2 separate regions of the Homo sapiens genome follow, and region 2 is linked to region 1. The links come from fine-mapping of genetic effects on gene expression. A gene starts in region 1. The other region holds a variant in brackets. All regions are shown on one strand. Distances are between the middles of the regions.

The links. PIP is the estimated chance that this variant, and not a neighbour inherited with it, causes the effect.
Region 2: its variant is fine-mapped to the expression of RPUSD4 in lymphoblastoid cells (GTEx, PIP 0.98).

What each region holds. Positions count from the first base shown.
Region 1 is chr11:126,210,046-126,212,939 of GRCh38, forward strand. It overlaps RPUSD4 (RNA pseudouridine synthase D4), which reads right to left and starts at 1,605. Exons shown (of 7, transcript NM_032795.3): 1 at 1,405-1,605; 2 at 845-1,010. The coding sequence starts at 1,593. FAM118B (family with sequence similarity 118 member B) reads left to right here and starts at 1,737. Exons shown (of 9, transcript NM_024556.4): 1 at 1,737-1,785. RefSeq lists an enhancer at 1,390-1,619.
Region 2 is chr11:126,159,291-126,162,212 of GRCh38, forward strand. No RefSeq gene overlaps it. Among named protein-coding and RNA genes, the nearest start is that of RPUSD4, 51 kb to the right of the region's middle. RefSeq lists enhancers at 604-1,248, 1,249-1,893. The variant AG/A (reference allele first, on the strand shown) is at 1,289.

The sequences.
Region 1 (2,894 bases):
AGAAGCATTAAATAAGAGTGATTAGGAGGATAGACTTCGGGGTTAGACATTCCTGGGGTTCTACTCTACTCTTCTTACTAGCCATTTTTTTGACCTTGGACACATTACTTCTCTTTCCAACTTTGCTTTCTCGTTATAAAATGTAAATATCTGGAAAACAACTTCATTGGGGAATGGAAAGGCAAAAAACTGTTGCGAAAATAAAGAGAGAAAAAAATTATACAAACACTTGGTGATGTGATTTAATTCCTTGTCTTTGTGAACAACTATCTCCGTATCTCCCCAAAAAGCATTACCTTCTTCTAGCTAAAATGGGCCTTTTCCCTCTTTCACAAATGCATTTTTTAAATCAATCTTTCCTGATTCACTTCAGCTGTCCCTGACAACTACATGCAACATCTGTTGAAAGACATTTGAAGGTCCACTAAATTCCAGTCACTCTGGGGTTGTATGTTACATATACTCCAACATACATACACACACACACACACACACACACACACACCCCCTTTTTTCTTATGTATCATTTTCTCATTCCCAGTTCTGATGGAAGATAACCTTTAGTCTAGAACCACACAGCCTTTGTATATCTCTACAGCGATCCCTGTAGTCTGCACACAGCGTATTCTACGAATTGCTTACTGTCAGATGTTTAGAAAGGGAGGACTGTCTTATTTATTTATTTCTGTGTTCTCGGTGGTTCCTTATATTGGACGGTAGTTTACAAAAGTTTAATTAATTTGAATGCAAGGCTTTAGAGTGCACCACAAGTAACGTCTCAGTTTTCCTCGGTTGTAGCAGAAAGCAGCTGCAGGTTCCTCCACCTTTCCCGCGTGGTCCTTACCATGCACAGGGAGACCGTAGGGCTTATTGATGACCACAAGGTTCTTGTCCTGGTGGAGAATTCCTCGGGTCAGTGCCTTAGCAAGCACGTTGGGGTGGACTCGCTGCAGCTGCCGTGTGAACCGCACTATTTCTTGCACTCTCCGCTGAACAGCGTTTGTGGACACCTAGGGAGAAAGAAGGAGCCGTGGGGAATGCCTGGTGCGGAAGCCGTGGAGAAGACCTTCCATAAAGGTCTGGGTGAGAATCTGAGTAGGGAATGACTATCTTTGCATCAGACCCGCGCCGCCTTCGACTAATTTGAGAGCAGAGATACCCATCTGTCTAACCTGCGTACCGACGCAGTGGTTAGGACTGAGCCTGACAGTAGCCAAAGATCCAGCTCACGGGAAAACACCGTACCCTTACTGACCCCTCCCCTCCGCCTTCTCCCCATTCTCCCACCTTGCGTCCGGGCTATTGACTCACACGCTTTCACTCAGAGGACCCTCCTACCTACTCCCCGTCTGGGAAACCAATGAGCGCACTGCCTCTAGGGAGTTCTGGTCCCTTTGGACTCACCGGCTCCTTCTTTGTGTCTTGTTCCCGTTTCTGGGCTCGGAGCTTCTCCGCTAATCTCTGGGCATTTATGGCCGTAGAGGCAGCGGCAGCGGCACAAAATGGCTTTGAGACGAGAGTGAAGAGACTCCCGCAACCTTGGCCGTTTCCCCGGATCCAGGGGCCCGACGCGCTCCACCTGGGCGCCGCCATCTTACAAGGAAGGGCGGGGCGAGCCAAGACCACGTGGAGAAGGGCGACTACAATGAGGCGGGAGTGGGTGGGCCCTGCAGGTCACGTGGTGCGGGGTGGGGCCTGGGCGAGTCACGTGGGGACGGTGCGCGCTCAGTGCGGCTGCGCCGGCCGGTAGCTGCAGCTGGAGCAGTGGCGTTTGGAGGAGACTCGGTGAGTGTGTAGGGAAGCCGGGCTGGGGCTGGGAAATGCCGGTGCCTCAACGGTTTAACGTTTTCTGCGTCCCCGGGATTTCCGTTCAAGAAGAGCACTGGTCTGAGAAACGTTTCTCCTTTTGGTACACGATCCCACTCAAAAACTCCTCCCCGCCCCCGCGCCCCCTTAGGAGCGATGTCCCATAAACGCTCGCCCCAGAGCCCTCCTAGGCACCGACGCCGTCCCTCTTAGCCACTGAATCTCCGGTGATCCGCCAGTCCCCTGCGGGACGCGTCGGGGACCCTCTTGATCGGATGCCCGGATCTCTGTAGTCTCTCCACCCTTCATCTTCCAACTCCCAGCCTCTTTGTTTCGCGTTGTAACCTGTACCCTTCTCCTAAGGATGACGGCCCCTTCCCTTATCCAGGGCCCCCAGCACCTATTTCCTACTTAGGAAGCACTGTGAGTGTTTTTTCTGCCCTTCCTCAAGAATTCATTTCTTGGGGGTCTCCTCCCTACCTTCCCTACTCCTCCTAAAGAAAAAGCTGAAAGAACGGAGCACAGACCTTCACTTTTCCTGTTTCCTTTATTTTTCCTCTCCATAGTTTGCAACCACACCATACCTCCTCTCACGAGATGCGATGTTGGGATTCCCTTGCCCGAACTGCAGGCGACTCCCTCTGATTTCACTCAGGGGTGGCTGGGAAGATAAACATCTGTTTGGGATGGTAGTGTTAAAAATAACTTGGGATATACCTGCCATTTGTTAAGAGGAAAGCTTATGCTGAGTTCAGAAAGAATGTCCTGAAAACTAATGGATCTGTGACGATAGAAGGAACAATTTTTTAAGACTGCTTGGAATGAAGGCTGCCTGAGGAGTTATTAGAGAATAGGTAGTTGAATTAGATTTGGGTTCTACACCTCCTAAAGGGTTTGGCAGAAGGGAGCCGTACCAACAAGAAACAAAGTTGATCAGGTGGAGCTACTCATAGAAGACTCAAGTTGAAGAGTTTGAACTAGAGGTGATACGTAGTGAGGAGTCTTTGAAGCTTTTCGAGTAGGGCAGAGAGACTCCTTGAAAGTGGAATTCTGGAAATGAATCTGGCAGTTGAATGCAGGACAGATGG
Region 2 (2,922 bases), 51 kb before region 1:
TACAGTGTCTTGTATGACTGCATGTGTGTATGGTGTCTTGTATGACTGTGTGTGTATGGTGTCTTGTATGACTGTGTGTGTGTATGGTGTCTTATATGACTGTGTGTGTATGGTGTCTTGTATGACTGTGTATGGTGTCTTGCTTAGTGGGTGAGTGTGTGTGTGAGTGCAGGGAGTGGGGTAGGGCAGAAGACGGTGATAAGAAAGGCAGTATCTTCTTTGCCTGCATACTAAGTTCAACACATGCACCCATACCCATACAAAACCCAGGAATTTTCACCTTTAACAAGATAGAAACACAACTCAAGATGGACCTCTCTGGCCATGTCCCCCAGAGTGTAACTTCTCTTCCACATGGGGTCTGTTCTTCCTCCCTCCCCACAGCTTTTCAGCTGGGAAATTGATACCCACCTCCCATGAGCAGCCTTTCTAAGCGACCGGGAGCTCCCTGCACCCTCAGCCTGACCTTCCCGTGCTGAGCCTGGGCCCCTGGCCCCAGCGGGGCGGCCAAAGCTGCCGCCAGGGCCCATCCATCAGGCTCAGCACAGCCTCCCGCCCTCGCCTGCCCCCACCACATCCAGCCTGTAAGTCAGCAGGCCGCCGAGAGGGACCCCCAGGGCCTATCTGCCACCACTGCCCCCTCAGCACCCCCCTCGGCGTAACAGCTACTGGGCAGAGGAAAGTAATGATTCCTCCCCTCCCAGCCTCCTCCTTCTAAAGCTGACAGCCTCTCCCTCCTACCTGGTGACCTGCTGAGATCTGCTGAGACCAAAGCTGCAGGCCAAAGATAAAAAATGCCTGGCTATTGACTAAGACACAATAAAGGGCCAATTTGCATGTTATTTGCATACCAAGTTAATGTCAAAATGGAATGAGCCCCCGTACCGCTGCAGCTTTCCTCAGTGGCCCTTATCCTCAACCTTTCTCTGCAGGCCCTGCACGGGGCAGGGGTCTCTTTCAGGCCTGTTGATGGCAGGGGTCTGATCCCAGCTGGGCTGCGGCACATGGTAAGCCGCCCAGAGGGCACCTCTCCACTGTGTCCTCGGCGGCCCCTGCCTCGGCACACTTTCTCAGCACCCTGAGAAAGGCCAAATCCCATGCTGGCCTCTTGCCCCCGCCCACTGCGCCCCACGCCCCACCTGCTGTGTTTGTGCAGGGGTGGAGGGAACATAATGAGAGGCTGATGTTCCTGCAGCTGGGCTGTGTTTGGAGTCTGGTGGAGTGAGGGGAGGGCAGCAGGGCAGGTCGGGGCAGCAGGACGGAGGGCCAGGCAGGGCCGCAGAGCCTC[AG/A]GGCCCAGCAGTAACAGCTCACACATGATTTTTCTCCCCACAATGTTCTCCACTCCAAGCCTGTGGGCCCCCAAGTCGGAAGCTTCCAGGACTGTAACAAGCTTTAGTTTATACACAAACAGCTGCATTTTCCTACTACCGTTTACTGCAAGGGAGCCAGCGCAGCATCCTCTCAGCTTTGCTTGGCCTCAGCAGTGAGTTGAAGCTCGGCTTGGCCAGCCTGGGAGAGCAGGGACGGCAGGGCCTGTGGATGGGACGCATCACAGGTGGGTCCTGAGCTCTGGGGTCTGTGATTCAGTTTCTCCTCCCCCAGTTCCCCAGATTCCCTGTCCCCTTGGACTTCGGTGTGTACTTACTCCAGCATCCCTCATCTCACCCGCGTATAAATACAGAGAAGGAAAAGAGTTTCAGAACGGAGGCAGTCGTTTCAGAATGAGTTGGATCATTTGCCAGGTGAAAGGACCGCCCGTGATGTCCTATAGTGCCTTGGTGTGCCATCACCTCCAGGCAAGGGTGGCACACGGGAACTGTGCATGTCCCCTCCCCTTCCACACTTCACTGCAGCCAACCAAGGCTTTGCTTCCCGGTAGCCTCTCCCAAGGCCCAAGGCGGCCTGGCTGACAAAGGACAGATCACTGCCCCAAGGAAAGGGCATGGAGAACAGTGGCCCATGTGAGAGAGGGGTGTGTGGACAGAGGGGGCATCTGAGGACAGGAGGCGAACCCAGCTCTGATGTGGTAAGGGCTCTCACAGCCCTGCAGTCCCCACACCCAGTCACCCTGCAGCAACCAGGCGAGGAGGAGGAAGAAGGCTCCGTCCAAAGTGGGGCTAAGCTTGCCTCTTCTGACCTATAGCATCAGAGAATGGTGACCCTACCCATGCCGCCCCGCCGACCACAGTTAGGCCCCTTTGGAGCGGCGTGGGGTGGGGACCCAGCAGGGTTGGCAGCATCCGCTTCAGGGCTGCACGCTGAACAAAAGCAGGGCGAGCTGGAAGCAGATGCTGGCACCTAACAGAGCAAACAAGTCACTCCACCTCTCTGTGCTTCCGTTTCCCCCTGCCCTTTTTTTTTTAATACTTGAAGTTCTAGGGTACATGTGCACAATGTGCAGGTTTGTTACATGTGTATACATGTGCCATGTTGGTGTGCTGCACCCATTAACTCGTCATTTACATTAGGTATATCTCCTAATGCTATCCCTCCCCCTCCCCCCACCCCATGACAGGCCCTGGTGTGTGGTGTTCCCCATCCGGTGTCCAGGTGTTCTCATTGTTCAATTCCCACCTATGAGTGAGAACATGCGGTGTTTGGTTTTTTGTCCTTGCGATAGTTTGCTGAGAATGATGGTTTCCAGCTTCATCCATGTCCCTACAAAGGACATGAACTCATCTTTTTTTATGGCTGCATAGTATTCCATGGTGTATATGTGCCACATTTTCTTAATCCAGTCTATCACTGATGGACATTTGGGTTGGTTCCAAGTCTTTGCTGTTGTGAATAGTGCCGTAATAAACATACGTGTGCATGTGTCTTTATAGCAGCATGATTTATAATCCCTTGGGTATATACCCAGTAATGGGATTGCTGGGTCAAATGGTATTTCTAGTTCTAGATCCTTGAGGAATCGCCACA